Homo sapiens: one gene and its partners. The protein of the gene in region 4 interacts with the protein of the main gene of each other region in a pairwise test. Each region holds a gene or a part of one and is shown on either strand. Other genes may lie near its edges.

What was found.
Region 1: the proteins of PNMA2 (region 4) and TOP3B interact in binary tests that used the Homo sapiens proteins (3 or more experiments, as listed by UniProt).
Region 2: the proteins of PNMA2 (region 4) and TTLL10 interact in binary tests that used the Homo sapiens proteins (3 or more experiments, as listed by UniProt).
Region 3: the proteins of PNMA2 (region 4) and HAPLN2 interact in binary tests that used the Homo sapiens proteins (3 or more experiments, as listed by UniProt).

What each region holds. Positions count from the first base shown.
Region 1 is NC_000022.11:21,964,933-21,973,512, reverse strand, and holds part of TOP3B (DNA topoisomerase 3-beta-1), read left to right. Parts: intron 1-794; coding exon 795-901; intron 902-1,561; coding exon 1,562-1,636; intron 1,637-2,451; exon of another isoform or gene 2,452-2,533; intron 2,534-3,106; coding exon 3,107-3,303; intron 3,304-4,737; coding exon 4,738-4,894; intron 4,895-5,796; coding exon 5,797-5,910; intron 5,911-8,137; coding exon 8,138-8,228; intron 8,229-8,580. UniProt on the Homo sapiens protein: Releases the supercoiling and torsional tension of DNA introduced during the DNA replication and transcription by transiently cleaving and rejoining one strand of the DNA duplex.
Region 2 is NC_000001.11:1,168,703-1,177,485, reverse strand, and holds the start of TTLL10 (inactive polyglycylase TTLL10), read right to left. Parts: upstream 3,607-8,783; 5' UTR 3,560-3,606; exon of another isoform or gene 3,202-3,559; 5' UTR 3,167-3,201; coding exon of another isoform or gene 3,165-3,166; exon of another isoform or gene 3,063-3,164; coding exon of another isoform or gene 2,997-3,062; exon of another isoform or gene 1,070-2,996; intron 1-1,069. UniProt on the Homo sapiens protein: Inactive polyglycylase.
Region 3 is NC_000001.11:156,622,415-156,626,225, reverse strand, and holds the end of HAPLN2 (hyaluronan and proteoglycan link protein 2 precursor), read right to left. Parts: intron 2,760-3,811; coding exon of another isoform or gene 2,736-2,759; coding exon 2,651-2,735; intron 2,420-2,650; coding exon 2,066-2,419; coding exon of another isoform or gene 2,062-2,065; exon of another isoform or gene 1,929-2,061; intron 1,876-1,928; coding exon 1,759-1,875; intron 1,626-1,758; coding exon 1,443-1,625; intron 1,126-1,442; coding exon 842-1,125; 3' UTR 501-841; downstream 1-500. UniProt on the Homo sapiens protein: Mediates a firm binding of versican V2 to hyaluronic acid. May play a pivotal role in the formation of the hyaluronan-associated matrix in the central nervous system (CNS) which facilitates neuronal conduction and general structural stabilization.
Region 4 is NC_000008.11:26,510,105-26,519,611, reverse strand, and holds the start of PNMA2 (paraneoplastic antigen Ma2), read left to right. Parts: upstream 1-5,739; 5' UTR 5,740-5,796; exon of another isoform or gene 5,797-6,784; intron 6,785-9,507. Other genes in the region: DPYSL2 (dihydropyrimidinase-related protein 2), read right to left, coding at 4,933-5,286.

The DNA of each region.
Region 1 (8,580 bases), on a different chromosome or scaffold from region 4:
GGAGTTCAAGACTAGTCTGGACAACATAGTGAGACCCCTGTCTCTACAAAAAAAAAAAAAAACAAAATTCTTTTTAAATCAGCTGGCATGGTGGTGCGCACCTGTAGTCTTGGGAGGCTGAGGTGGGAAGATGGACTGAGGCTGGGAGGTCGAGACTGCAGTTAGCCGTGATCGTATCACTGTACTTCATCCTGGGTGATAGAGCGAGACCCCTGTCTCAGAAAAAAAAAGAAATGGGGCCTAAAAGAAAGCCAGACAGCTGAGCATGCAAGAACCGGGTCTCTGTAGATGAGTAGGTGAATGTGCTGGGCATGAGGCTCAAAAAGATGGTCCTTTAACAGGAACGACTGCACACATGTGTGCCCCCACAGAGTGCTGGGTGGAAGGACAAAGTTCCAGAAACTCAGGTTGGAAGTGTCAATGAAGGCACCATTGTGGGGTCCAGTGCTCAGGCAAAGAGACCCAGCCCAGGAATGGTGCTCCCAGCCACAGGGAAAGTCCCGGAAGTGAGGCCAGAGTGGCAGCCCCCCGAGAGCTTGCTTGGCTCCTGTGGTTGGCCGGGGTGTGGTGGGTCCGCTCAGCAGCCGAGCAGAAAGGAGGCTGGATGGGAGGGGGTTACCAAAGGCCTGAACCCACATCCTGGCTCTGCCTCTGATCATCAGGATGACCCTGGGCAAATTGTTCTCCAAGCTTTCCCCTCCTCATTTGTGGGATGAGGCCAACATCCTCCTGGGGTTATGATGGTCTCGGAGGCTGAGCTCCTGTGACTCAATGTCACTGTGACTGGTTTGTAGGAAAATACAACAAATGGGACAAAGTGGACCCCGCAGAACTGTTCAGCCAAGCTCCCACGGAGAAGAAAGAAGCTAACCCCAAGCTGAACATGGTGAAGTTCCTGCAGGTGCGTGGGGCTGGCCTGGGCATGAGCACACCGGGGCTCCCCACCCTCCACAGCTGCCATGTCTTTGCCCACCCTTGCTTGAGTCCTAATCCCCCTTGGACAGGGGGGCCTTTGCTAGCTTTTTCTGTGAGTGCCCCCTGCTGGCCCACGAGGCACCTGCAGGCACCCCCAACACACAAGGCAGTTGCCATTGCCAACCCTCAGTCCTGGAGAGCAGGCCTTCTGCTTTTAAAATAGCTTGTTTGGTCGGGGGGTTTTTCTCCTTAATTTTAAAACAAATGCATACAGATTATGGAAAATTAGAAAGTGCAGATAAGTAGAAAGACAGAAAAATTATGCATAATCATATTACCCAAGACGACTGCTGTTATCATTTAGGGTTATTTCATTTTAACCCTTCTTCTGGGCAGTTTTGGGGTATAAGATCATGTTGCATTTATACTTTTTTTTTTGGTCCAAAAAACATCAATTATAAACTCAATTCTTTTCTGTTGGCTGAGCCAGCCTCAACACAGCCAGCTCCTTACCCAGCCCAGGTACCAGTCCTCCTAACTGAGGTTCAGGGCCTGGGACCAAGCCCTGTCCTGGATGGGAGCACTGGGGGCGGGTGGCACAGACCGGGTCTGCAGCAGGTACGTGTGAACCTGTGCTGTGTGGCAGGTGGAGGGCAGAGGCTGCGACTACATCGTGCTGTGGCTGGACTGCGACAAGGAGGGGGAGAACATCTGCTTTGAGGTGAGTGTGAGGCTCACTTTGTTCCTCACTTTTGGCCTTTCTGACACCAGCCCCAAACTGACACCAGCAGTCAGTCACATCACTCCTGGGGCCAAAGGAGGGAGTAAACTGTACCGGTTTAAAAACACCTCTCCCCTCCCTTTATTCTGAAACTCCACAGATACTTTTAACTGCATAGGCTCTATTAAAGGTGGTCAGTTGTTCCTCCGCTTGCTGAGGCCTCAACGGTATGAGTGAACATAGGAGGGGCCAAATTGTCTGGGTGGATGCAGGTTTCAGAATGGGATTGTCTTGGGGCAGCTTGGTGTTCAGCATCTTGTGCCCAGCGTGACTTCTCAGGGACCTTGGGTTGATGCTGGTTGATTCCCGACCTCAGCACTGAGCTCCTTTTGCAGGCCTCGCTCTGCTCATCTCCTGCCTCATCCAGGATGCCTCCTGCCTCCAGCCAACCCTGGGAGCCCTGCAGAGAAGCAGGTGGCAGCTGCTCCCTGTGCACACCCCATGCCCCATGCTTGCCCCGGCCATGGTGCCCTCACAGTGGCCATGACTGCTGGTCTCACTTGGTGCCCTTCAGACTGTTGTTCTATGGGTCGCCCCCGTGCTCCTGTACCCCCAGCTCTCACCCGTGGCTCAAGAGCTGGTCAGTGAGACAGAGCTGAGGCACCTGGCGTTGCAGTACAGCACCCTCAGCAAATGCGATCACACTCTGTCTCTTCCCAGATACCCTCTCCTCCCCTGCAGGGCGGCTCCTCCCTGGGGGCCTTTGCATCTGGGAATGGAGAATGGGGGCAGCTCATGGGGCTTTCTCCCTTCAGAAATGAAGCCACTTATTCCCAGTAAGGAAGCTGCGTGGCCAGGCTCCGGCGGCGACCCTAGTCCCACTGCACGGCCTTCCTAGTGAGTCTCGGCTCCAGGACCCCTGCTGTGCTTTAGCCCGAGCTGCCCCCACCACAAGCTAGGACCACCCGTGGCCTTCCTGCTCTTGCCCATTTCCTTTCCCCTTCATTCTTTTTTCCTTCCCTGTCTTTTCTTCAGCCTCTTAAAATTTCCACCCACCCCTCCAAACCCTCCCTCCTAGAAGGCAGGGAATCGTGTCACATGGGATGGGTTTGGGGACTAAGAGGTCCCTCATGTACTTGGCAGTAGCATTTCCTGATTTGGTGGGGATGAAAGCAGAGGATTAGAAGAGAGGGCGGGAGTAAGAAGGGAGTGTTCGAGTATGTTTCTAGATGGGAGTAAAGGAAGCCATGTGGTGGGGTGTTGTGGAGTGCTCAGGGCTTCTGGAAAGGCAGGGGGATAGAGGAGGGTCTGGCAGGTGCAGGAAAGGGGATAGAGGAGGGTCTGGCAGGGGCAGGAGAGGGAGCCGAGCACACGTGTTCTTTCCTGGAAGGAACCAGGCTTCACAGTGGGGTGGGGAGCTGTGGCAGGGATCTGGGAGGTGGGTCACAGCTGGCCACTCCCCACCCCCAGGTTCTTGATGCTGTTCTGCCCGTCATGAACAAGGCCCATGGTGGCGAGAAGACCGTGTTCCGGGCCAGGTTTAGCTCCATCACGGACACAGACATCTGTAATGCCATGGCCTGCCTAGGCGAGCCTGACCACAACGAGGCGCTCTCAGTGGATGCTCGCCAGGAGCTGGACCTGCGAATCGGCTGTGCATTCACCAGGTGCTGGCCACACCCGCAGAGTCCTGGGCACACCCTCACTCTCCCTCAGCCAGAGACCTGCCTCTACTGGTCCCCCTCCGGGGCCCCTAGGCCTCCTCGAGCCAGGATGAGCAACAGGGGATTTCACCAACCCTGAAGAAGGCCAGGCACAGTGGCTAACACCTGTAATCCCTGCACTTTGGGAGACCAGGATAGGAGGATTGCTTGAGGTTGGCAGTTTGAGACCAGCCTGGGCAGCATAACAAGACCCCATCTCTACAAAAAAAAAAAAAAAAAAAATTATTTTTTTGAGACAGAGTCTTGTTCTGTTGCCTAGGCTGGAATGCAGTGGTACAATCTCAGCTCACTGCAACCTCTGCCTCCCAGGCTCAAGAGATCCTCCTACCTGAGCCTTCCACTACAGGTGCTACAGGTGTGCACCACTATGCCTGGCTAATTTTTATGCATTTTGTAGAGACAGGGTTTTACTGTATTGCCCAGGCTGGTCTCAAACTCCTGAGCTCAAGCAATCTGCCCACCTTGGCTTCCCAAAGTGCTGGGATTACACATGTGAGCCACTGCGCCCAGGCTAAACAAAAATTTATTTATTTTTTTGTTTGTTTGTTTTTTGAGACAGAGTCTTACTCTGTCATCCAGGCTGGAGTGCAGTGGCACAATCTCAGCTCACTGCAACCTCTGCCTCCTGGGTTCAAGTGATTCTCATGCCTCAGCCTCCCAACTAGCTGGGATTACAGGCTCCTGCCACCACTCCCGGCTAATTTTTATACTTTTAGTAGAGACGGGGTTTCACCATGTTGGCCAGGCTGGTCTCGAACTCCTGACCTCAGGTGATCCGCCCACCTCAGCTTCCCAAAATGCTGGGATTACAGGTATGAGCCACTGTGCCTGTCCAAACATTTTGTTTTAATTAGCTGGGTGTGGTGGTGTGAGCCTGTAGTCCCAGTTACTTGGGAGGCTGAGGTGGGAGGATCACTTGAGCCCAGGAGTTCAAGGCTGCAATGATCTGTGAATCCCCATTAATGCACTCCTGCTGGGCAATACAGCAAGACCCTGTCTCTACAAAAACAAAAGAGACCTAAAGAAAATTGTTTATTTAGCTGACAGAGATCACATATGCCCTGCTTGATAAAGTGTGTTTGTCTGTGCTCTGGGGGTCCTGAGGAGAGTGTGCAGTAGATGGAATAGAATAGAAGGCTCCCTGGCCTGAGACAGTAGAAACCTCTGTCTCCTCTCTCACTGGCTCTGTCACCCATGTACACACATGAATCCTCCCTAAGGCTATGCCCACTCTGCTCCCACTGGCTTCTAAGTGGGGACACCACCTGATGCCACCTCCTTCATGCACCACCCCTGGCCTTGGGCTGGACTCACATGGGTGGCCATAATAGTGTCTTGAGTGAATCAGTGACCAAAATATCTTTCCACTCCCTCCAGGTTTCAGACTAAATATTTCCAGGGGAAATACGGTGATTTAGACAGCTCTCTCATCTCCTTTGGGCCGTGTCAGACTCCAACCCTGGGATTCTGTGTGGAGAGACATGATAAAATCCAGTCCTTCAAACCAGAGACCTACTGGGTGCTGCAGGCCAAGGTTCCTTGCCTTTCTCTATTCATGCTGGGGCTTTCTGGGTTTGGGGCATGGATTCTGAGAGTCTTCCATCATCATCAGCCGGCAGGCCCCGGGCTGAGGGCAGAAGTGTGGACGGCTGTACCTGGAAGTGGTCTGTGGTGCCTAGGGCTGAGGGACCCCAGCCTTCATGGGGGCAGTGGGAAGAGACTGGGCCTGTATATGCTGAATCTGGATAAGTGGGAATGAGTTCAGCTCTGGCAGTGCAGGGTGAGGTCACCCCACAGGAATCAGTGGCTTCAGTGGTCAGGTCCAAGCACTGGACTGAGACCATTGGCTTTCAAACTTTTTAAAATTCCTAGAACCCTTTCTTCAAATAAAAGCCTCCACAGAAGCTCACTGTAAGACTTAATACAGCTAGGCACAGTGACTGATGTCTGTAATCCCAACAACCTGGGAGGCTGAGGCAAGAGGATTGCTTGAGGCCAGGAGTCCAAGGCTACAGTGAGCTACGATCGTGCCACTGCACTCCAGCCTAGCAACACAGTGAGACACTGTCTTGGAGCTGCTGTGGCTGACACGGGGCTTGGGACCCTGGCGGTGGCCATACCTACCACTGGCCAGGCACTGGGGATAGGCAGGGGTGGTGTGAGAAGTAGGGGCTCAGGTGCTTCTTAGGGACACATCAGCCTCAGCTTTGGGCCACCTTCCTGAGACTGGCTGCCTGGTTTTGGGGCAAGTGGTGGAGAGGGCCAGATGTCAGCTTGCGTATCTGCCCACCTGAACAGGTACAGCTGTGAGCCATTACAGCCAGGGCTATTTGGCTCCCAGACAAGGACCAGCTTCATCTGTCCTGGTTCTTCCTGGCGTTGGGCTCACCTGGAGACTTTTTCTTGTGCGTTCACCCTTTATCCTTTTTCCTGCAGGTTAACACTGACAAAGACAGATCTCTCCTTTTGGACTGGGACCGAGTAAGAGTGTTTGACCGGGAGATCGCACAGATGTTTTTAAACATGACAAAGCTGGAGAAGGAAGCCCAGGTGTGCCTGCTCCACCCACATCTATCACAGTTGCCTTGGGTGAGGGTGGCCCTTGGATGCCTCCCGCTGGAGGAACAGCCTGTGATCCTAGTCCACGTCTTTCTCCCCCTTTCTGAAACACAGACATCTTTTTGGAAAGCTGAATGGTTACTCCCTCATATACTCCTAAGATATTTCTGCCCAGTGCAATAGTCACAGTGTACTGCATGCCCGCTCCATACCAGGCACTGTCCACACCTGTGACCTTGTCGGACCCCTTCCACTCTCCCCTTTCCACGTGACCCGCTAGGCATTACCTCCGTGTGGCAGGACTCCATTTCACACAGAGATTCAAACTAACAACTGTAGAGGGACCTTGGTGCACACTGATGAACTTGCCCAAGGTCACAGCTAGCAGGGGAAAGTCTTGAGATTCCAATTGCAATCAGCTTGCGTGCTTTTATGGGATTATGTTTCTTACTCAGGGCTTCTATGAATTGAAAGGACATGCTGCTTGGCTGTTAGGAAAACGGTGAGGTGACCTGGCTGCATGGGTTGGGGACACATCTGTGGCTATTGAAGTAAACATGCTACAGGCATGACAGCTACCAGATCCGTCGAGACACAGCCTGGCCTCCTTAGCCGCCTTCTCCTTGTCCTTCTCTGGCCTTCCTTGAGTGCCCTGTTGCCCGCCATGCTATCGTCTCAGGCATCTGAAACTTCTAAAGCTGCTCCAGGCTGTCAGCATTGATCACATTCCTGCAGAGACACTGTTGCCACCTCCAGGCCTCACGCTGGGGAGCCCAGCTTCACATAACAACTGGCCTCTGTTAGCACCCACATCTGTCTGTCTGGAATGCAGAAGGCACTGCCCTGACCAGCCTACGTGGGATTGGCAAGGGCCAGGGCCTGGGGTTGAGTTGTTTGGATTGTTTTTGCCATAGGCAAAACAAAGAGTTGTCTCTTCCGACAAGTGTTCAGCAGAGGTAGAGAGTGGCAGGACCCCAACAAAGCACAGCTCATAGATGCACTCCACTAACCTGCATGGTGTTTACACAAATTCCAGAATAGTTACCAGCACTTAAAAATTACGAGATTTCATACTAAAATTCTGCCTTCTAGCTTCTCTTGAAAAATCAGAAGAGGTAGCAATACTAGCAGGTGCAGGCAGCAGCCCTCCCCACAACAAGGAGTGGTACTTCCCCTGGGACGGGCCCCACTTGCCATCCCTGTAGCTTGGCTGATGCTGGCTTCTGTAGGATTTCCATCTGCAGCCCTTCTGACTCCTCCTCAATCTTCCAGGTTTTCTCTTTCCCTAGAAAATTCTCCAGAAAAGAATATTCAATCACTTGAGGCCAGGAGTTTGAGACCAGCCTGGACAACACAGGGAGACCCTGTCTCTGAAAAAAATAATTTAAAAAGTAGACGGGCATGGTGGCACGTGCCTGTAATCCTAGCACTTTGAGAAGCTGAGGCGAGAGGATTACTTGAGGCCAGGAGTTCATTTAAGACTAGCCTGGGCAACATAGCAAGACCCTGTCTGTACAAGAAATTGAAAAAAAAAATTGGTCAGACATGATGGTGTGTGCCTGTGGTTTCAGCTACACAGGAGGCTGAGGCAGGAGGATCACTTGTCCCAGGAGTTCAGGGCTACAGTAAGCTCTGATGGTGCCACTGCACTCCAGCCTGGGCGACAGAGCAGGACCCTGTCTCTTAAAAAAAACAAAATTTGGTTTTTTGTTTGTTTGTTTGTTTGTTTTGAGATGGAGTCTTGCTCTGTCACCCAGGCTGGATTACAATGGCGTGGTCTCAGCTCACTGCAACCTTCACCTCCCAGGTTCAAGCAATTCTGCCTCAGCGTCACGAGTAGCTTGGATTACAGGCACGTTCCACCATGCCCAGCTAATGTTTGTATTTTTAGTAGAGACGGGGTTTCACCATCTTGGTCAAGCTGGTCTCGAACTCCTGACCTCAGGTGATCCACCCGCCTCAGCCTCCCAAAGTACTGGGATTACAGGCGTGAGCCACCACACCCAGCCAAAATTTTTTTTTAAAAAAGAATTTTCATTCTTTTTCCTTTCCTGGTCCTGAATAAATATTCAATCAAGTCTTTAGACTGTTGGGAAGAATGAATTGGAGAAACAGGGAGACCAGATGAATGAAACCAGACCCTTCGTCCACACATCTTGATTCCCTCTATGGTGGTGTCTTCCTCCTTCCCCAAATCATTGACTGTCCTGTCTTCCAGGTGGAGGCCACAAGCAGGAAAGAAAAGGCCAAGCAGAGGCCCCTGGCCCTGAACACTGTGGAGATGCTGCGTGTGGCCAGCTCTTCTCTGGGTATGTAGGGACATTTCTCTCAAGTCACCAGAAGGCTTCCTGAGGCAGGTTCAGCCTGGAGCAGCGAGTGCCCAGGGTTGCAGGATGGTGCCCAAGGCTTCAAGGGGATCTGAGCCTCAGGAGGATTTCACTTATCCTTAGGTTGTAAAGGTGGTAAAGTTGGTCACCACCTGAGGGGACCTCCTGATGTTAGAGTCCCTGAGCAGCTATCCCTGGTGAGGGGAGAGGCCCCAGCCAGATGTCACCTTCAGGGAACCAGTGTGAACGTCGCCCCTCAGCCTCATCTCCTCAGTCTTTTCTCCTTAGTAACGAGGAGGGGGTTGGGCTGGAAAGCTGGTGGTCTCTGGCAGCT
Region 2 (8,783 bases), on a different chromosome or scaffold from region 4:
CAAAAAATTAGCCGGGCATGGTGTTGGGCGCCTGTAGTCCCAGCTCCTTGAGGGGCTGAGGCAGGAGAATAGCTTGAACCTGGGAGGTGGAGCTTGCAGTGAGCTGAGATCGTGCCACTGCACTCCAGCCTGGGCGACAGAGCGAGACTCCGTCTCAAAAAAAAAAAGAATGACACACAGACACATTTACACACACACACGCACAGACACACAGCTACACACAGACACACACAGACATGTCGACACTTGCACAGATGCACAGACACACCTACACACACAGACACATGGATGCACAGACACACCTACAGACATGCACACACACACCTATAAACATGCACAGACACACCTACAGACACCTACACACAGACACGTCTACACACACACGTACACACAGACACACACACAGACACCCACACACACACACAGACACCCACACACACAGACGCTGACACACACAGACACGCAGACATGTAGACACACAGACACACAGACGCACACAGAGGAAGAGAAAAGGGGAGAAACAGGGAAACAAACCAGCCTGGAAAAGGCTGGGGTGATGGAGACAGGACCCCTCAGAGAGCCGCGTGCTTTTAAAGCAAAGGCACAGAGAATACAAAAGAGCCGGTGGGAATTAAAAATGCAACACCGGGGTTGGGATTTAAGTCAAGGAAACTGCCCAGAAGGGAACCCTGGGGATGGGACTGTGGGTGTAAATCCGAGGTGCCGCACAGCAGGGTCACCGTGGAGCCCCAGGCGAGAGGGGAGGCCCGGGGAGATACAGGCACAGAGCCGGAGGAAGGAGGTGTGGTCCTGGCCAGCCCTGGGTGCCCACCGAGGCCACTAGCAGCCCTCCAGCCTTCCTGGGGACACACAGGGCTGGAACCGGCCCAGGAGGCTCCCAGCCGGGAATTCCAGGAATTCCATACCTGGCCTACCAGGTGTGGAGGTGGGAAAAGGTGTGGAGGTGGGAAAAGGTGAGGAGACATCCGTCCCTCCGGGAAGCCTGGAAGACTCTCACAGGAGTGAGCTGTCAGGGAAAAGATGCAGCAGCTGTGAGCTTGCAGCTGACCTGATGACTGTGTGCCCCAGCCTCTCCAGCTGTACAGCGTCAGCCTCTCTCCAGCTGCACAGCGTCAGCCTCTCTCCACCTGCACAGTGTCAGCCTCTCTCCACCTGCACAGCGGCTGGGAGCAGCAGCCTCTCCACCTGCACAGCGTCAGCCTCTCTCCACCTGCACAGCGTCAGCCTCTCTCCACCTGCACAGCGGCTGGGAGCAGCAGCCTCTCCACCGGCACAGCGGCAGCCTCTCTCCACCTGCACAGCGTCAGCCTCTCTCCACCTGCACAGCGTCAGCCTCTCTCCACCTGCACAGCGGCTGGGAGCAGCAGTCTCTCCACCTGCACAGCGGCAGCCTCTCTCCACCTGCACAGCGTCAGCCTCTCCACCTGCACAGCGTCAGCCTCTCTCCACCTGCACAGTGGCTGGGAGCAGCAGCCTCTCCACCTGCACAGCGTCAGCCTCTTTCCACCTGCACAGCGTCAGCCTCTCTCCACCTGCACAGCGGCTGGGAGCAGCAGCCTCTCCACCGGCACAGCGGCAGCCTCTCTCCACCTGCACGGCAGCAGCCTCTCCACCGGCACAGCGGCAGCCTCTCTCCACCTGCACGGTGGCAGCCTCTCTCCACCTGCACAGCGGCTGGGAGCAGCAGCCTCTCCACCTGCACAACAGCAGCCTCTCTCCACCTGCACAGCAGCTGGGAGCAGCAGCCTCGCAGGGTTGCTGCAAAGATGGAGTTTCCACATGTAATGTCAGGACAGCACCCGCCACACACTGCGCAGTCTGCAGGGCTGTGGTGATGGTGACTGTGGGGGTGACGGGAGGCAGAGAGCTCAGGGACAGCTCAGGATAGGCGGGAACACAAGCACATGTGAAAAGCAAGGCGATCGCCAACTCTGAGGAAAACAAATGGGCACCACCCGGGGAGGCCGGGCAGCTCTGCCCCAAACATCATTCGTGCCGGGATGATATGGACAGGGCAGCGTGTGGAAGACAAGCCCCTTTCACCGTCCACGGGGAATTTCTGCACTGGAAGCTCCAGAAGCAGCAGCATCAGGTGCTTTTTGGAAACAGGCAGTTAGAAAGCGGAAGCACAGCACCCACCCCCCCACCCAGGAAACTGCCTCCGTCTCTTCTGCTGCAGAAGAAGCAGCAGCTGGAAGAGGCAGCCAGGTGCTGATTTCATCGTAAGCCTGAGGCCTCCTTTGGGCTTTTCTAACTTTATGTCCTTATGATGTTCACAAATAACTAAATAAGTTGTGAGCTGTTATTTCTTGTCATTGAAATTAAAGGTGTTTTTTTTTTTAATTTTTTTAGACGAAGTCTCACTCTGTCGCCCAGGCTGGAGTGCAATGGCGCAATCGCGGCTCACTGTAACCTCCGCCTCCCAGGTTCAAACAATTCTCCCGCCTCAGCCTCCTGAGTAGCTGGGATTACAGGCGCCTGCTGCCATGCCCGGCTAATTTTTGTATTTTTAGTAGAGACAGGGTTTCTCCATGTTGACCAGGCTGGTCTCAAACTCCTGACCTCGTGATCCGCCCACCTCGGCCTCCCAAAGTGCTGGGATTACAGGCGTGAGCCACCGCCCCGGACTGAAATCAAAGGTTTCTTAAGCAGCTGCCCGCTGTGTGTGTGGTGAACCCGGGGCCTGAATGCAGGTGGGACGCAGCCTCCCAAGCGCCGGGAGCCGCTGGCTCCTCACGCCTGTCGATCTAGCAAATGTGCTTTGGAGTCTCTGACGGACGCGATTCTGAATCCAGAAGGAAAGCGTCTCACTCCGAGATGCTGACTGACGTGTCCTTTATAGCGGTGGGACTTGGGAAGCCGGTGACGCCCGGTGTGGAGGACGGTTGTGACGCCCCTCGGTGGGGACACGGTGTAAAGGCGGCGTGGAAACTTGGTGCACGACCTTACAATAAATTGTAAAATAAGCGTTTTACCTGGTGAGATGAAAAGACCGGCAGGAGACGGCACCCCGGTAGGATGAACAGAAGAGACTTTTAAACCTGAAGAAATCATCCAAAAAGCGACCACATGTTAGTGTCCTGCTGCGAGTTCTCCCCCCAGAATCCAAGCTTGGCCACGTGGGGCCCTAGGAAGGTACTGACATTGTTCGAAGAGCTGGTGCCTCCCGGCCGGAGGCCGCTGTCAAAGGACGCACGACCTGTGGGCTCAAGCAGCCGTCCGTCCAGGACTTGCTCTGCGGAGGCAGACCTGGTCCCAGGCCACGGAGCTCGTCCCAGGGCTGCCCAGCCCTCCCACCCCACCGGGTACACACACCGTTCCCCGGCCTGGCCTGGACCCGAGCCTCTCGCACGGTGGCGCTGGGGTCCGGGACCCGCAGAGCAGGCTCAGCCTGGCCCCACCCTACCCGATCCCTGTCCAGTCCCCTCCCCAGCCTCCTCCTCTCCTGAGCAGCCTCCCGAGGGGACCCGCAGGCAGGGCGTAGGAGGGCGGGGCCGAGCCCACTGGACCCCAGCTGGTGGCCGCCGGCGCTTCTTACCTGCCCAGCCCACAAGGTCCTGGGAGCCTGGGCCAGGAAACAACAGTGGTGACCTGGCAACCGTCTCCTGGCAACCCCCACCCAGCCGGAACCCAGAGGTGAGCTTGGGTTTTCGGAGGATGGGGAGGGGCTGCTGAGTGGCGGGGCCAGCCCGGGAAGCCGGGCTGAGGGCTGAGGCTGGAGAAGGGCACAGCTTCATGGGCACAGCTGCCTCCCAGTCACTGCTGGGACTGCCTGAGCCTGAGCCCCAGTTGCTGCCCCTCCGCCCGGCCCTCCCAGGATGGTCCCTGAGCCGTCTCTCAGGCCCCACCCATGCTCAGCACCCCAGGACCTGGCCCGGGCCAGGCTCTGCGTGCACCCTGGTGATGTTGGCTGGATACACGGCTGCCGATCCCTGAGCATTCTCTGTGCTTCACGTGGTCGGGTCCCTGTTCTCACTCCACAGCGGACGAGGTGCCACTGTGCCCCCCTCTGCAAACAGGAACCGGGGGCTCCACAAAGTGAGTGCCCCCCAGAGGGGGACTCACATCTATCGGTCCAAACTGCACCTTTCTGTAAGCCCCTCGCTGTGTCACAGACCTCGGCCAAAGTGAAGCATTCCGCAGGGGTTTGGGCCGTGAGGAACAGCCTGCCCGACACCTGACTTGAACACTCTGCGGGGAAAAACACCGAGGAACATCACGATTACCTTCTGCGGGAACAAGGGCCAAACAAACGGCCTCATCCTGAAGCCGTGTGGCCCGGGCCGCTCCCACCCATACCTATAGGCACCCCAGCCCGTAGGCGGCAGTGGGCTCTGGCATCCAGCTGGTCCCCCACCTCTGCAGGTGTTTGCAATGTACCCGTGTTGATGTAAGGCTGCCCTTTCTCCATCTCTGTGTGTCTTTGTTTAACCCTCACATTCTCTCTTTTTTTTTTTTCAAAATACGGAGTCTCACTCTTTTGCCCAGGCTGGAGTGCAATGGTACGGTCTCGGCTCACTGCAACCTCCGCCTCCCAGGATCAAGCAATTCTCCTGCCTCAGCCTCCCGAGTAGCTGGGATTACAGGTGCCCACCACAGTGCCCAGCTAATTTTTGTATTTTTAATATTAATTTTATTTTTTATTTTTATTTTGTTTTATATTTTATATATTTATTATTTTATATATTATTTTCTATATTATTATAATTATTTTATTATTAATTTATTATTAATTTTAGAGGGTTTCATCATGTTGGCCAGGCTGCTCTTGAACTCCTGACCTCAGGTGATCCGCCCGCCTCGGCCTCCCAAAGTGCTGGGATTACAGGCGTGAGTCACTGCGCCTGGCCTGCCCTCGCCTTCTCTTTAAAACACCTAATGATACGAGGTCTGGGAGTCCTGGGCTCCTGGCATGACCCATGGCACGGTCTGATCCCCTCTGCCTCAAACTCTGAGCCTCCAGCCACGTGTCCCCTACCCATCCGTGTCCTTCAGAGCTTTGCGTGGGTCACGAGGGCCTCTGTGCTTAGGGTCCCCTTGCAGGGGGCTGGTGGTGCCCCCAAAAGACAACCACATCATAGCCCTGAAACCTCGAATGTGACCTTATTTAGAAGAAGGGGCTTTGCAGGTGGGGTTACGTCAGGATCTCTAGTGACATCACCCAGGGCAGGCCCTGAATCAATGGCCTCTGCCCCCCTGAGAGGGAGGTGGAGAGAGGAGACGCAGACGTGGGGGAGACGCCGTGGGACTGGGGGGCAGAGATGGGTGACACGGCCACAGCCACTGATGCCTGAGCTGGCAGGGGCTGGGGAGGCAGACAGGGTCCTCTCCTGGAGCCCCCAGAGGGGTGCAGCCCTGCCTGCCCTGTGGCTTTGGAGTTCTGGCCTCCAGATGCGGGCGTAAGCGTCTGTTGTTGTGCCTGCCTGTGTGGTTTTTCAGCAGCCGGGAGGAGAAGCCACCCTTTCGAGAGTGTGGTGCCCGCTCCGGAGCCGCCTCCCCGACCCACGCCGGGGCGGCAGCCTGGGGGTTCCCCGCTCTGTGTCCCTGGGGCCTGAGCTGTGGGGGAAGAAGGGGCCCCGGCTGTCCCTGGGGAGTCCCTGGAAGGAAGAGAGAGCTCTCGGAAGCGGGGCGGTGGGGGGCGTCTCCCACCGTCCTCCTGGTTCTGTCCAGCTGGGAACAGTGTCCTCGTCCCCTCCCCGCACTCCCACCTTGCGCCTGGTGCTCAAGCTTTGAGATGGTCCCGCTGGACCCTGGTGCGGAGCAGACCCAGGAGGCCCCTCTGCCCTCTGGGAGCCTCAGGTCAGGTGGCAGGTGGGGCTGGGGCAGGTCCTGGGCTGAGTGGCTGGGCCTTCGGGGAGCAGGGCCCACTTGGTGGGGGTGACGGGTGGGGGGTTCCTTCGGTGGCTGCTGTGGCTCTCCAGGCTGGGAGCAGCAGATCCGGGTTCGGAAGCTCTGACTCTGGGAAGGGGCCTACGTGTGTCCCCTCCTCCCTGAGGCTGAGGCAGGTGGCCTGACAGGAGCTGATGGGGATGGGAAGGACTCGCCCAGCTCCTCTCCAGAACTGGCCCTTCCGGGAACAGAGCAAGGCAGGGTCCTTGCCCCTGGGCTGGGAGGGAGAGCCCCGTGTTCATCTTTGTGGCGCACCGGCCTTTGGAGGATGTGATCTGGACACACACCTCGGAGGACGGGTTTCCTTGTGTGGGGGGAGAGGGGGTGCAGCGGGCAGGTCCCCCAACCCCTGCAGCCTCCCCTCCCTGGGGCCCCACACAGGCCTGAGGACTCCCCACCGCCCTCAGAAGCCCCCAGGCTCCCCAGCCAGGCACTACCTCGTCCCTCACAGCTTTCCTGAGTTCAAACTTGAAAACTCTGCCCCTTAATCCCAAAATCTGGGTGGTGTGGCAGCCACGGATACCTGTAGCCCCAGCAAGGTTCCTGCGCAGGGCAGGTGGGAGCAGGACCTTGGGCCGTGGGTGTGCCCGGCCCGCGTGTCCAGGTGGGTGCAGCCCCCAGGGCCAGGCAGAATGGGGGAGGCCTGGCACCTCTCGGGCAGTGGGTGGGGTCTCCAGGCAGGCCAGGCCCTGCCACTGGAAGGGAGGTGGCCCCTTTGCCACCAACCTGTGGCTGTCACCGGGGCAGGTGTGGCTGGACCAGGAAGCCCTCCTGGCTGGCGCCTGGCTGCCTCCATCCTGTCCGCAGCCCTCGCTCCTGCTGGCCGGCACCATACGCTCTTGGTCACCTGCTCAGAGAGGCCCCCCAGGGCCACCGGCTGCCCCCTCGGTAGCTCCCTTCAGCACAGGCTGAGGTGTCTCCACTCAGGGACTCCCCCTTCCCCCAGAACCTTGACCTGAGCTGACCACAGGAGAGTCAGGGAAGATTCCTGAGCAAAAGAAGGAGGGAGGGAGGGACGGAGAGAGGAGGAGGAGGGAGGAGGGGGAAGGAGGGATGGAGGAGAGGAAGGAGGAGGGGGAGGGAAAGAGGAGGGAAGGGAGGGAGGGAGCCTCTCCCAGGAACCTTGGGGGCCTCCGGGGCCGGATGCAGTGTCTGGGGTTCTGTCCTCAGCTGGGCCCTTTGCACGGCGGGGGTCTGTGCACGTGTGGTTAAAATAAGGAGCTGGTCCAAGCATGGGTGCGTGAACTGCAGACTTTATTACTATACAAAGACTTTTTTCTGTTTTGTTCCCGGTGCTTATGGAGAGGAGGAGGAGGAGGAGAAACCGCACAGGGAGGCTCTGGGTACGGCCCCGCCAGCCCCAGCAGGGTCCTTCCTGTCACACCCCGTGCAACGCAGCAGGCGCTGTGGAGAGTGAGCCCCACTGCAGTGTGGGGCGCAACTTCATCCGAGGGGTGCTTGGAGGGACTGGCCAGACGGGCACAGCGGTGAGGAGGTGCTGGGATGGGGAAGGTCCCCGAGCTCCGGGCGGTGTTGGATGAGCTCAGGCTCACAGGTGTGGCCCTGCCTGGCCCGAGCTCTCCAGGTGTGTCCAAACCTTGTGTTATATGCACCTTGCAGTCCAGGGCTCACCCGTGCGGTCTGGTGAGGTGGACGCCACATTCTGGGGGTGGCACTCCAAGTTCTTCCCCACACACGTCGCTCAGGCGGCAGCAGCATGGGGGTGGTTTCAGCTGGCCCTGCGGGGGACTGCCCCATCTCCCCAGGGAGGAAAGAGGGTCTGGAGATAGCCCCGGGTGGGGGAGGTCAACCTGCAGATCCCGGCTTGGGGACAGCTCCAGATGACACCTCGTGAGCCGCCTGGGGTGGAGGGGCCCCCAGTGCAGGGCTGCGTGGCCCCAAGCACCTGCCTTCCCTATCCCATGGTCTTGCAGCTGGGCACCGGCCCCGCCCGCCTCAGCCCCAGAGATGGGCCCTGGAGGGAGAGTGTGGTCTGCATCCCACGGCTGGCCCCTGGAGGAGGAGGGCCAGGGCTGGCCCCGGGAACCTCCCAGAGGTCTCTGCGTCCTGCTGCCTGGCCGCTGAGACGCTGTGACATTGTCCCTGCTGGGCATTTGTGCTCCTCCGTGCCCTGGGCTCAGGCACTTTGGGGGGCCCAGCTGCTTCTGTCTCAGCCTCCCCAGGTGGCGAGGGGGCTGGGGCTGTGGGGTGGGGCTCCGGGTATCTGTGACTGTGACCCCAGGGGCCAGGCTGATAGCACGGGGTCCACAGCATCTGCCCGGGGACTACAGCTCGAGGGCCCCAGGAGGCCGGGTGGGCACAGGCCATGGCGAGGGTGGGGCACAAGAGCCCCAGACCCCGGCGGCTTTGCACTGATGGGCTGCGGATGGGCACAGGCCATAGTGAGGGGGGCATGAGAGCCCCAGACCGGGCGGCTTTGCACTGATGAGCTGCAGGGCAGGCAGCTCTCTCCTCTAACGGTGATCAGGCAGCGGATGGACGGTTTTACCAGACAGTATTAGACAGAGGGCCAGGTCTAACCATGTCTGGTAAGACGCCCATCGGCCGGCGGTGGTGTGGGTGGCCTCCGGGTCCTGGGCTGGTGTCTGCGGGGCCTGTGAAGGGAAGGCCCCGGGGGCGGCTCCTGCCACCTCCTGCAGCTGCCCTGATCCCTCCTGGGTCTGCAGAACGAGCCCCCGAGGCACTTCCCTGACAGCCCCCATCCCAGCACCTGGTCCCAGCCCAGCCTGGCTGTGTGGGGGTACCCGGGAGCCACCTGGTCACCCAGGCCCTGCTCTTGGCAAAGGTTCCCTGCAGCCCCTCGCTGGCTTCCTGAAGCTCGGTCGGGTTAATGAGTAACAGTGAAGGGCAGC
Region 3 (3,811 bases), on a different chromosome or scaffold from region 4:
ACGCAAGGTTAATTTCCTGTCAATTCTAGCAACAATATGACTTTCCTATCTTTAACAGTAGTCCCCGCAAACGCTTCAGGGAGGTCTGCAGCCTGCACATTTTGAAATATGTTTAAGTTGTCTTATATTTGTTATCTGGGGCACATAGGGTGGGCCTGGTGGCATGGGGCGCCCCTGGCAGATTTGAACTAATCTTAGGTGAGTGTGCGGCGCCCCCGCGTGGCGCCTGGCGCAACAACATGCTGGGTTCTGCGTGGGTCCTGGGCCAGGCGCCCACTACGTCTCCACTTCTCTCTCTCCCTTGGCCTATTGGTGCCCTCCGGCCGCACTCCCGCTCTTCCGCTGACCCATCCCTTAACAGCAACAGCCCTGCCCCTTACCCTGTCTTAGGTGCTCAGTGGGCACGCAGGATCCCGGGTCATCAGCCCCGACATGAGCGTGCACACACACACACACACACCCCTCCACGCCTCGCAGCTCTTACAGCTCCACCCAACACAAAAGATCCCCAGGTTATTTTATTGCTGTACTCAGAGGTCAGTTAATGCCCCCGGCCGCCTCACCCTCCCCCCGGCGGTGGCTGAGTCCTCTGCTAGGGTTCGCGAACGGCAGCGGGTCCGAGGGTCACCTCTGCATCTCGCCGCCGGAGGCGCCCCCGCCTCCCCTCCCCGCCGCCGGGCCAGCCGGGGTCCGAGGCCCGCAGCCCCCGGCTGGGAAGGCAGGTCTGGAGAGGCCGCTCCGGGTCTGGAGGGAGGGGAGGCTCTCCGGAAAGGGGTGGCGAGAGACCCCCGCCACGACTCCCAAGCTTCTTCGCGCGCGCTGGAGGGGACACGGTGGGCGCCTAATTCTCGGCGTAGCAGTAGGTCCCATAGGCTGCCTGTTGGGGCCTGGGGAAGCCGAAACTGCGCACTCCGGGATCCGGGAGCCCCCCGCAGCGCGGCCTCGGCGTGGTGATTGGGAAGCGCACACTGCCGTCAGCCAGCCAGCCGCCGTCGCACTGGTCTAGCCCCGAAAACTTCCAGGCGGCGTAGAGGTGCCCAACCTTGGCCACCACGGCGCCGCGTCGCCGGCACGCCGCGTGGGCTTCAGACAGCGTCAGCCGCCCGGGCACGAAGAACACTTGGCCTGGGGACCACAGCGGGTCACCGACCGAGGGCAGGGTGGGCGGAGAGGGGCGGCTGACACCCAGGAGGCGGAGTTGGGGTGCGGGACCGCAGAGGTGCTGGATCGAGCTTGGGTAAGAGGAGTTGGGGGATCGAGGCAAAAGTGCAGGGAGGGTTTGGAGAGGTGAGCTGGAGCCTGGGCGGGCGGGCGGGCTGATGGGGGGGCGGTGCCTTGGAGGGACCCGGAGACCCTGCCCTGATCTCAAGCTGAGGTCCACTCCTCGTCCCCCACATTTTTCAGACCCCTCCCCAAGACCCTGCCTTCGTCCCGCGCCTCACCCGCCAGCGCGGAGGTGAAGCAGAAGGCGTCGTAGCGGTCGCGCATCCGGTCGCGGGGTCCGTAGCTGCGGATCCCGGGCCGGCCTCGGCCGCCGCACGGGGCGCGTGCGGTGAGCACAGGGTAGCGCACGGAGCCCTCGAGCAGCCAGCCCGCGTTACACCAGTCCAGACCCTCGGTCCAAGCTGGCGGGAGACGGCGGAGGTCGGGGATAAGAGGCGTCATAGGCAGGAGCCAGACTGAGCTCGCCTGGCGCCCTCTCTCGGGCCCCTGAGACAGCTCCGCGGGGCTTGGGAAGTGCTGGGTTCGGCCGCTCACCCTGGTAGAGCTGGGAGTAGGTGGCCAGGCGTCCGTCCTGCTCCTCGCACGCCTGCTTCGCCTCGTAGTAATTGAACTGGTACCGGCCCCGGCTGGGTTGGTACGGAAACACCACACCTAGGGGGTGGCGGGGATCCTGGGGAGGGCCAGCGGATGGGAGCGGAGGGGGAGGAAGGGCGGCGCGGCCTGGGAGAGGGAGCTGGGGTCCCCAGGGGTGCGGAGGAGATACTGGGAAGGAGCCCTGGGAGACCCAGGCGAGGCGGACCCGCTGCTACACAGGAATGGGGCGGGAGCGGAAGGGCCTCACCCTCCAAGCTCAAGGTCAGCGCCACGCTCTCGTCCTCGATGCCGTTGATGAGCTCGCAGCGGTACCGGCCCTCGTCCTCCAGGCGCACGCCCGCGATGACCAGGGAGGCGTCTAGTCGATGCCCCCTCCGCATCCTGGCGCGCCCTCCCAGGGGCCCATACCCCCGGGCGTGCAGTCCGTTGGTGATGAGGATCAGCGTTTCCCGGAGCTCCCCAGGCTCCACCTTGCTCCAGCGCACCTTGTAGCTGGGAGGCGTGGTGCCCAGGACGCAGGGCAGCGTGGCCGTGGCCCCACGATGAGAGTGAATGACCTCGTGGATGGGGGGCAGGAGGTAGTGGGGGCCCGGGTGGGATGCTGGGCAGAGGGGGCCACAGTGGCAGGAACCCCCAATCCTCACTGCCCCAAGTGCCCATCAGACCCTGCTCCCCAAATGCTTTCTCCAGAGCCCCCCAACCCTCTCCTCCATTGCCTTCTCAGCAATGACTTTCAGTCCCTGGGTACCTGCAACAACTGCCCTTTCCCCTTTCCCCACCCTTGCAGTCTCCCCAAGCCTCCCCCAGATTCTGGCCTGGGCTGGGGTCTTACCTGGGTCTCCTTGGGCTTTGTGGAAGATGGTGAAGGCCCAAAGAAGGAAGCGGCAGAGTGTGGGGAGGGTGAGCCAGCCTGGCATGATGGGGGGTCAGCCCGGCACCGTCTGCAGGGCACAAAGAGTGGGCAGTTCTTAGGACTGGGGCAAAAGGGTGGGGAAGAGCAGGGTTGTGGGTGAACTCCCATCAGAGATCCTAGAAGGGACTGTCCAGCTGGAAGCCACTGGGGCAGAGAAAAGGGGTTGGTGACAAAATGAAGGTGATGAGGGGAAGAAGGCAGTAGCAATCCCCTTCCTCTCCCTCTCTTCCTCTGTCACATCCTCTCAGCCTGCAGGTACTAATTTAGCATCTTCTCTACCTGTCCCCCTCATCACAAGTGCTACTTCCCAAGCTTGCCATCTGGACTGCCAGCTCGTCTCTATCCTCTCCCAACACCCATTCTCCATCTTGAAGCCAGAGTCAAAATGATCTTATCACTCTCCTGCTTTTTTATTTTATTTATTTATTTATTTATTTATTTATTTATTTATTTATTTTTTTGAGACAGAGTGTTGCTCCATGGTCCAGGCTGGAGTCCCGTGGCATGATCATGGCTCACTGCAGCCCCTAACTTCCAGCTCCAGGTGATCCTCCCATTTCAGCCTCCTGAGTAGCTGGAACTACAGACATGTGCCACCACACCCAGCTAATTGTTTCTTTTTAAGTTTTTAGTAGAGACAAGGTCATGCTGTGTTGACAAGGCTGGTGCTGGGATTACAGCAGGCGTGAGCCACCGTGCCTGGCCTTGTCACTCTCCTGCTTGAAAGTGACTCCCAGTTGCCCTGAGGATAAAATCCAATCTCATAACCACAGCTTCCAAGGCTGTCTATAATCCAGTTGCTCCCTGCACCTCCAGCATGGTCCCCGCCTCGCCTCTTAACCACTTTGGCCTCTGCACTGTTCCCCTGACATGCTGGATTTCTGGCAGTTTCCCACACAGTCCAAGTTTGCATTCATTTCCTTTCCTTTGTGCCTGCATTGGTCGCACAGGCCTCACCTCCTTTGGGAAACCTTTACCCACCCCCAGTTTGCCACACTGTAGTGCACTGTGATCTGCTGGACTGCGGACCTTTTTTTTTTTGAGACAGGGTTTTACTCTCTCGCCCAGACTGGAGTGCAG
Region 4 (9,507 bases):
CTAAATCTCGGTTTCCTTATTTACAAAAAGTAAATAATGCCTGTATCAGACAGTGTTGGGGCAAGGTTTTATTAATAGAATAATATACTCTAAACATTCTAAAATGTAGAATCTAGAATTTAAAAGCACATTCTAGAGTTATATAATGCTACATAAATCACATGGCTTTACTGATAGAGGACTGCAGTGGGACTGAAAACAAGAGACCTCTCTCCCAGTCCTGGGACTATCACCTGGGCTCCAAGGAATGAAGTAGTTTTCAGGACATCACTTTCTTCACTTCTAGAATGAGGTAATTAAACAATCATTAGGTCTCTTGCAAGCTCTGACATTCAATGATAGTACACATTTGAATCTATAATCAATTCTGACTTCCCCTTCTTGCTCAAGAAAGTAAAGAGGGATGCTTGCATCAAAGGACCCTGGAATACGTGGCCTGTCTTTACCAGGCTGGAAAAACTCCCCAGCCTCACCCTGATTTCCATGGTATAGAGCCATGAGTTTGTGAACCACATAACATTGCATATGCAATATGCAAAGGTCATGGCCAGAAGTTGTCACTGGCGGTCCAATGACAGCAATTCTCCTCTCTATCCTTGAGCTCCAAGGAGAAAGATGGTAGATGCTGGTTAGCTGGTAGGAGTTTTCTTCTAGTTAGGTTATAGGCCCCAGACCTGGGGAAGCCTATTTCATCCCAAATCTAATCCTTCTTATTTCCTGCCACAATTAATTATTGCAGGCCAATTAATTGAATAGCAACTTTTTAAATCATTAAAGACTTGTTATAATTTAACTAATTATAGAAATATTATTCAGCCATAAAAAGGAAGGAAATTCTGTCACATGTTACAACACAGATGAACCTTAAGGGCATTATGCTAAGTAAAGTAAGCCAGTCGCAAAGAACATAAACGGTGTCATTTCACTTATATGAGGAGTCTAGAGTAGTCAAGCTGGCAGAGACAGAAAAGAGAATGGTGGTTGCCAGGGGCTGGGAAGAGGTGGAATGAGAAGTTGGTGTTTAATGGGTACAGAACTTCAGCTTTGGGGGATGAAAAAGTTCTGGAGATTGGTTGCATAACAATGTGAATACACTTAACACCACTGAGCTGCACTTAAAAATGGGTAAGGTGGCAAATTTTAGGCTATGTAAAAATTATTTTAATTTAACTAATTATATGATTAGTTCAATAACCAGCTGGGAAATCAAGAGCAAATAATAATTATGGATTTTCATCCTTTCCTTCCCCTCTCCAATTATCCCCCACCCCCACTTTCCTCCTTTTGAACCCGGGTGGGTCTTAGGTTTTTTGGAATCCTGAACACACAAATGCTTGTATCTCCTGTTTTGAACCAATATGACCTGTAAAGTATCAAGGTATTGCCTTTATTCCAAATCTCCACCACACACCCCACTAACCACACATTCGTTTTGTTTAACAGGCTAGTCTATTATCAGACACGGATCTCTGGGGACAACTTGGGCATCAGTTGTTTGCCTGAGGAGCAGATGGCTTTAATCATTGGAATTTCTCTTTAACTAAGATTAATGCAAGTTAAGAATTCTGAATGGGAGAAGGGAAGCCAAGACTGATTTTAGAACCTGTTGCCCTTTGGAAGAAGAAAGGTCTAGAAGGGGCATGCTATGGGGATGGAGTAGGGATGACGTTGTACAGTTAGAGGGCAGCACAGCACTGGGCTCCCAGGGCCAGAAGAGATTCAACACAGGCAGAAGGGATGGGGACCCAGATGGAAGGGAGCACCAGAAAGCACTTCACAGACTCAGTAACATTGCCAAGCTCAGCAGCACTGTGCAGTTCATTCAGCGGCACCTGCCCTGGAGAGGAGGAGAATCACTCCCTGTCACTCCAGCCTGCATAGGTTGTTTGCTGCTGGGAAAAGGGCCTAGAGGCCCCTTTGAAAAGCATTCTTATGGTCCAGTATTGCTGGTGGAGCCACTGGTTCTGGCTACGCTGTGTCTGGAGTGGAATGGAGGAAGTTCCTAGGAGGAAGGGAAGAGGCTGAAGGACCCCTGGGCACTGACAAGGGGGGATTGGGCCAACAGAGATGCCTTTCTTCTCTCTCTTCCAAGAGGCTCAGAGTCTTTCACAGTGGTGATCAATGTAACCTCACTGAAGCCCAAAGTGGACTTATAGGAAAAAGAGAGTAACAAGATAGAGGCTTTCCTCATTCACAACCACTATGCCAGCTCTTTTCCTCCGCCAAAATCTGACATGCCGAGTCAAGCCACACCCATCGCTTTCTGGTGCTGTCTGGCTCATACTCTGAATATAATTTCATTTAGTTCCTGCAAATGCACATGTCCAACATCTCTCATCTTCCATGAGCCATGTGGCATGTGGGTCAAGGAAGCCTATTCTCTCCCTTCCCAAAGCCTTGTTAGGGGAACAGCAGGCCTCTTAGTGCAACAGATGAGCAAAGCCACATCTGACCATACATTAGTAACACATAAATAAAGCTGCAAGAGAGGAGGGATGGTGTGAGTCAGGGTCCCAGGATCCACCCATTCTCAATCTCCCCCACCTTTCTCTGCGTCAGGGCTTCCAATTAGAATGCACAGAGATGCTGGCACTCACCCAACTCATTCGTTGAAAACCAACTAATGACAAGTCAACTCAGTCAAAATGGTGGGCCAGTTGAGCTTTTCGGAAGTCACATTGTTATAAATATAAACACATGTATAGCCACAGCCTTTCCCCTTTTCTAAAGACATGAAATATTGAAACATTGCAAGTACTGATCCAGGTAAATGCTCTTAGTCGTGAATGACAAAATCTCATTGAGTAGGCCTTATATGATAAGGCAAGATTAAACATGAAAATTCAGGGGAAGGTGCTGCAGAAAGGCCAAGCTAGAATCGCCCTCTGTTACTAATAACTGGGCAACTGAAATCAATGTGAATTGCAATCTAAAACTCCCTTGCAGTTTGTTTGAGTATTTTCTCTTCAAATCTCCCCCTCTGCGTGCCTTAGTTTTACAATTTAGAATTTCATATATCTAAGCTTCTAAATGGCCAAGAAAAAAGAAGTGTTATTCAACCCGATAAAACTATGCCTTTCAAACTTGAGTTCTAATTCATGATAGGGGTGGGCCACTTTCAACCCCTATCCTCTGATCTGCCACTTTTTACATGATTTCTTCTTTATTCTCCAGTTGTTTTTCTGCTTTCTCTAGGACATCACAATCACCAGCACAACTCGCCATGCATGAGGCTACTCACTCAACCAAGATGCTATATGATTTTGGCCCTCACTCAATGTACTCACACAGGGAAGTGTTTCACACACACTCACTCAGCTTTCAGTATAAGTTACATTATTAGAAACTTTTACTTCAATTGTCTGATCACTTGGAACAAAGCAAGTTTTTTGGATTTAGTTTCTTCTGGTTGACTCATAGTGAAATATGGATATGAGACACTCCCTTATATGAATAAATTAGAGGGCAGGGCTGGGGTTGGATATAAATTATTAGTTGTGTCACCTTTTACAAATGACAGCAAATGCCTTGTTTTTCCTAGACTTGACCCTACAAAAGTCAAAAGCTGCAAAACTCTATGTCACATCAGCAAACAGTCAAATCATGCCCCAACCATCATCACCAATTCTGAATTGTTCTCAAAGGCTGTCACTGTAAGTACACAAATGTAAATGCTTGTGGAATCCCTCGCTGAATATGTATAGACCACTCCCAACTACTCTGGAAGCCCTCTGAGAAGAAGAAACCTCTTGCACTTTCTATAACTAACCTTCCCTCTGCCCTACAAGGCAAGGCGCACAATAGGTATTCAATCAACAATCATTCATTGATTGACTTATTATTTTTACCAGCAGGCATGGGAGAGAAACGGAAAACGTGTTAAAACATTTTGCATTGTAAATTATCAGTTAAGAAATTAAGGCTGTGGAAAAGAATTACACTAGTGTAAGGATCACTCAGATAAAGAAAGAATTGTGGTGTGAGATTATTACTGCGCTGAAAATGCTCACTGTTCATATTTGTCAGAAAGTGACAAACATTTTCTAAAATCAAGCGTGACCAAATTGGCCTTTGTTTCCCCCATTAACACAATAAAAGGGGGTTTAGTCTTCTTCGACAGTCTATTTCGAGTGCGAGGGGTTTTCCCCCTTTTCTTGTCTTTTTGACCCTTTGAACATAATCCACTTAGTTCCCCGCTTCCTAAAGCGCCTCCCACATAGCGGTTTGGGGAGCGCTCTGTGAAGCCCCGGCTGAGACACTTATTGGAACTTTGTTCCCCACATAGGCTATTTAGGAGCGTCTCGGTTTCCTCGGGTGACTCCACAGCCTTCCTGGCTCTTCTCACGCTGCGAGCAGGAGTCAAGGGCGGTGCGGTGCTCGGAGGGGGTCCGGGGGGCGCTGACCATGGTCCTGGCCTCGGAGCTCGGGACGTGAGCGCAGAAGGCGCGGGCGGAGGCTGTAGGGAGCGGCCGTCCGAACCCCCGCCCCTCCCGACCACCGGGGAGCCGCGGGCCTTCACGCAAAGCCTCCACCGCACGCTCTGAGCCGCTCAAAAAAAGGGTGGGGCACCCAGCCGCAGCTGCAATCGGAAGCCGCCCGGGAGGGTTTCAGAAGAATGGAACCGCGGCCAACCCCCTCCCAGACGACCACCGCCCGCCCCAGCAGGGGATCAGCCCATTCCCTATGCCCACGCCCCACCTCTCAAGCTCAAGGAGACGCGGGCAGCCTTTGTGGGCGCACGGCCGCCCACCGCCCAGCCCGAGCCTCGCCGCACCCTGCGCGGAGAAGGGGCGGGTAGGGCGGGGTGCGCGTGCAGATGCGGGAGGCGAGGTCCAGGGCGGGGCATGAAGGCGGGCGCGCCGGGCTCAGGGGCGAGGGAGGGGCGATCCCCGCGCCCCGTCCTCCGTCTCCACCCCCAACCCCCACACCGACCTGGTCGTTGATGTTCTGCAGGGCTTCTTTGCCCGAGGCCCTCCGGATCTCCACCTTCCGGCCCGATTCAACAGATGGCTCTCCGCCGGCGCGCCGGCCCTGCCGCGAGTACGGCGGCTGCGGGTCCGGGCCCAAGTGGGCGACGTCCCGCTGCTGAGCCACCACCTGCCCCGAGCCCCGGCCCACCGACAGCGAGTCGAAGTCGATGGTCTTGTTCTCCGAGGACCCTTCCACCGGGCAGAACATGCCACAGAATTTCTGCCGGGGCTTGGGGCTGCCGGAGCCCAGGTTTTTAAAAAAAGCAGGGACCTCTTCGTCCTCTGCCGCCTTCCCGGATTGCTTTCTCTCGGCCATGGCTCGGGGGCTCGGGTAGGGTCCTCGCCGTCCGTCCGTCCGTCTGCCAGTCCCTAAGTCTCCCTCGCTGTGTGCACAAGCCCCCTAGCTGCTGCCGCGGCTGCCGTTCGCCGCCCACCGCAAGGTGCACAGAAAGGAAGGAGGGCTGGCGAGCCGGCGACCCACCCTCCCGGTCCCTCCCCCTGACCCCGCTTCTCCCCTCCCTGCCCACGCCCCCCGCGGCTACAGCGCGAGCTCGGGGAAGCGGCAAAGTTGGATCTGGGAGGGCGTCCGCTGCGGCTGCGGGAGCCGAAAGGCTGCCAGTTCCCGGCAGCGCTGGGAGGAGGGAGGCGCGGGCGGGGCGCGGCGCCGGGGAGGGGAGCGGTGCTCAGGGGAGGGCTGGAGGGGAGGGAAGGAGAGAGAGAGGGGAGGGCGGCACCGCCCCTAGCCCCGCGCTCCGGAAGTGAAGCGGCCAGACCACCAGCTAATGGATGCGGAGCGGAGGGCCCGCTGACCGCTCTCCGCGCCTGGGTAAGTATCGGGCAGGGCACGCGGAGTGAGGACCGGAGGACGCAGCCCCCAGCCCCAGTGCCCCTCTCCTCCACCTGCCTGGCCCAGGCGCCTCTGCCCCGCCGCATGGCGGAGGTGGGCCGGGGGCGAGGGCGCACTGTGGATAGGGGTCCCGCCCCGTTACCCTGGGTGTGAGCTGATGGATGGGAAAAGGGGACAAGCCGGGCGCCAGGCTACTCAGGGTGTGGGAAGCGGGATGGCACTGAAGATGAGCAAGGATAGCACAGGCAGGGTGGACAGGAGGGGGGCAGCCAAGACGCTGGACACCCCAGCTTCAGTTTGTCCACTCGCCTTGGCAGGCTGCAGGGAGCAGAGACTGAAACGAGAAGGTTCCCGCTTCGTGCATCCACTTTGGTGTGGTTGGGGTGACGGGGGAGTGGGGGGGGGGCACACAACATGGCGGGAAGAAATTCAGAGGGGCGTAGCAGATGGGAGAGGAATATAGAGAGAGACGCAGGTCTGCGGTCTATGGGGGTGTAGCAAAGAGTGCAGTCGGGAATTCCAGCCCAGGGCCACGACTTAAAGACGGGGTGCAGACCGACTCTATTGCGCAAGGCGCCATGGACCGTGTCTGCGCCACTGCGCCAAGAAGGGCGCAGGAACGTGTCGCGATTTGGTTTATTCTGCTTCCTCCACCAAAAAAAAAAAAAAAAAAAAAAAAAGAGAGAAAAAACAAACTGAAACCCCCTTCCCAAATCTCCAGCTTTCCCCTGCGCCCCAGAGCCCCGCCTGGTTCCCCCGCCCCTGTTGCGCACTGCGCCACAGTCGCAGCGTTTCCCGGGTTACCAGATGCCACGTGTTTGGGGAGTAAGTGCGGGTGCGCATCTGGTGCGGAGTAGGAGGTAGGATGTGGGCTGTGAGTGCCATGAATTGTGTGGGGCCAAGCAGGGGAAAGGTGTGTAGGAACTTGGTGTGTGTGTGCAGTAGCTGAGCCACGGCCACCGGGTTGGTAAGTAACCAGGGGGCAATTAGATTTGTGTGCCTAACACGGTCAATGCTGGTCCTTCATTGCTTATTCCCATCTCCACGTCCTTTCCGCGTATCAGTCCCTGCCTCTGCGCGATGACAGCTCCGCCTCTCTTTCCACAGTGGCAAAATCCTGCAGAAATGGTGCCCCTCCTTTGGTGGCCCGGGAGGGAGTTCTGGGCATGCTCAGTAACCAGGGTGGGTTTGGGCTGAGAGGCCGTTTACCGCAGGGCCACCGCGTAGGGCCGTGTAACCAGGGATCCAGTCCCATTGTCAGCCCAGGATTAAATGCGGTTACCAACCACCCCCACAGTCCAATTGTGAGAGATAGTTTGGTGAATATAGTTACATCTGCTGGACAATCAGTCGCAATTTGAAGATCAGCCCATCTTGATAGGTGGAAAGGCGTCTCCGGATGAGAAACAGACTGGGGAAGAAGAATATAGGAGTGGAGGGGCTGAGAGAACCGGAGGGGGCATTTTGGACTTAGCGGCAGATGTGCTTTGCATTTGAATAAAGCATTTGAAAAAAGCGCTTCCAACTGAATTACATCATTTCCTACTCACAGCCCCACTGTGAGATGCGTGCCTTATCAGCACTGCTTTCCAGGTTAGGAAACAGATTTAGAGAGCTTGGGGCGCATAGCCAAGGTTGGGTATTTAGTTAAATGATCCAGCAATTCCAGTGGGAGTCTTCCACCTCAAAGTCTGGCTTCTTTTCCAGCTTGTCCTGTGACCCCCTTTATGTGAGAAAATACAAGGTTCTTCTATTTCTACCGTATCCAGATATTTCCATCCATGGCCCTATTGTATATCAAGGGTGTTTCTTGCCATGTTTTTATTTGAAGGTAACACTGCAGGTCACACTGGGAGGAAGAGTCATCTGAAGATAGCCTAACTTCAGCATAGCAGTCATTCTGTAGACCATAGAGATGCTTTTTCCTGGGCAGTGTCTTTTTACATTCCCTGTTTCCTCTAAATATCCCAGTGGGGAGGAAGGTTGCCCCCAGCTGGTTTTTTTATTTTTGTTTTTGTTTTCAGACAGAGTCTCACACTGTCACCCAGGCTGGAATGCAATGGTGCAAACGCAACTCACTGTAGCCTTGACCCACTCGGCTCAAGCAGTCCTCCCTCCTCAGCCTCCCAAGTAGTTGGGACTACAGGCGAGTGCCACACGCCCAGCTAATTTTTTTATTTTTCCTTTTTGTAGAGACAGGGTCGCACTATGTTGCTGGTCTCAAACTCCTGGGCTCAAGTGATCCTCCCGCTTTGGCCTCCCAAAGTGCTGGGTTTACAGGTGTAAGCCACTGCACCTGGCCCTCCCCCACAGTCCCCACATTTTAGAAAGGAAAAGTCAGGCATGGAGAAGTCAGCAGTCTCAGGTCTCTGGGGCTCCTGGGCACAGGGGTGAAGCAGCATTTTGCCCTCCTGGCTCTCTGGCACCCCTGGTGCCTTCAGCACTTCCCAGAAGACTCAGGAGATCTTCCCACAGCAGGAGCACTGCTGATAGAGTTACAGGACAGCACTGTGGCGTATGGCCCCCATTCGAATTGATGAAGATGTTTAGGCCAAGGGGGAAATGGTTGTAGCCCCTTAACACACACTCCGCAGCAGTAACTGGGAGGTATTAGGAACTCTAACTTTTTTTTTTTTTTTTTTTGAGACAGAGTCTTGCTCTGTTACTCAGGTTAGAGTGCAGTGGTGCAATCGTGGCTCACTGCAACTTCCGTCTCCCAGGTTTAAGCGATTCTCCTGCCTCAGCCTCCCAAGTAGCTGGGATTACAGGCACGTGCCACCACACCCAGATAATTTTTGTATTTTTGGTAGAGACGGGGTTTGGCCATGTTGGCCAGGCTGGTTTCGAATTCCTGACCTCAGTGATCTACCCGCCTTGGCTTCCCAAAGTGCTGGGATTACAGGCATGAGTCACCACGCCTGGCCAACTCTAACTTTTTTACGTTCTCTAATCCTCACAGGTTCTCCAGAACAAAATCCTTGATAGGTGTGCTTCCTCCTTTTTTCTTTTTTCTCAAATGATGGGTTAAAGTTCAAATGTTAGGAAAGGCTGGGTGTGGTGATTCAAGTGTGTAATTCAGCACTGTGAGAGGCTGTGGCGGGAGGATTGCTTGAGCCCAGGAGTTTGAGACCAGGCTGAACAACGTAAGGAGACTGCGTCTCTACACAAAATTTAAAAAACTAGCCAGGCATGGTGGCATGTGCCTGTGGTCCCAGGTACTCAGGAGGTCGAGGTGGGAGGATTGCTTGAGCCCAGGAGAGATCAAGGCTACTACAGTGAGCCGTGTTTACACCACTGCATTCCAGCCTCGGCAACAGAGTGAGACCCTGTCTCAAAAAACAGAAACAGAAACAAATGCTTGGAGAGTGTTGTGTTAGTAACTTATTGTCTTAGTCTATTTTGTGTTGCTATAAAGGAATACCTGAGGCTGGATAATTTATAAAGAAAAGAGGTTTATTTGGGTCACAGTTCTGCAGGCTGTACAAGAAGTATGGTGCTGACATCTGCATCTGGTGACCCCTCAGGAAGCTTCCAGTCATAGCAGAAAGCAAAGAGGGAGCAGATGCGGCAAGAAAGGGAGCAAGAGTGAGGGGAGGGAGGTGGCAGTCTGTTTTTAACAATCAGATCTCGAGGAAGCTAATAGAACAAGAACCCACTCATTACCCCAAGAATGGCACCAAGCCATTCATA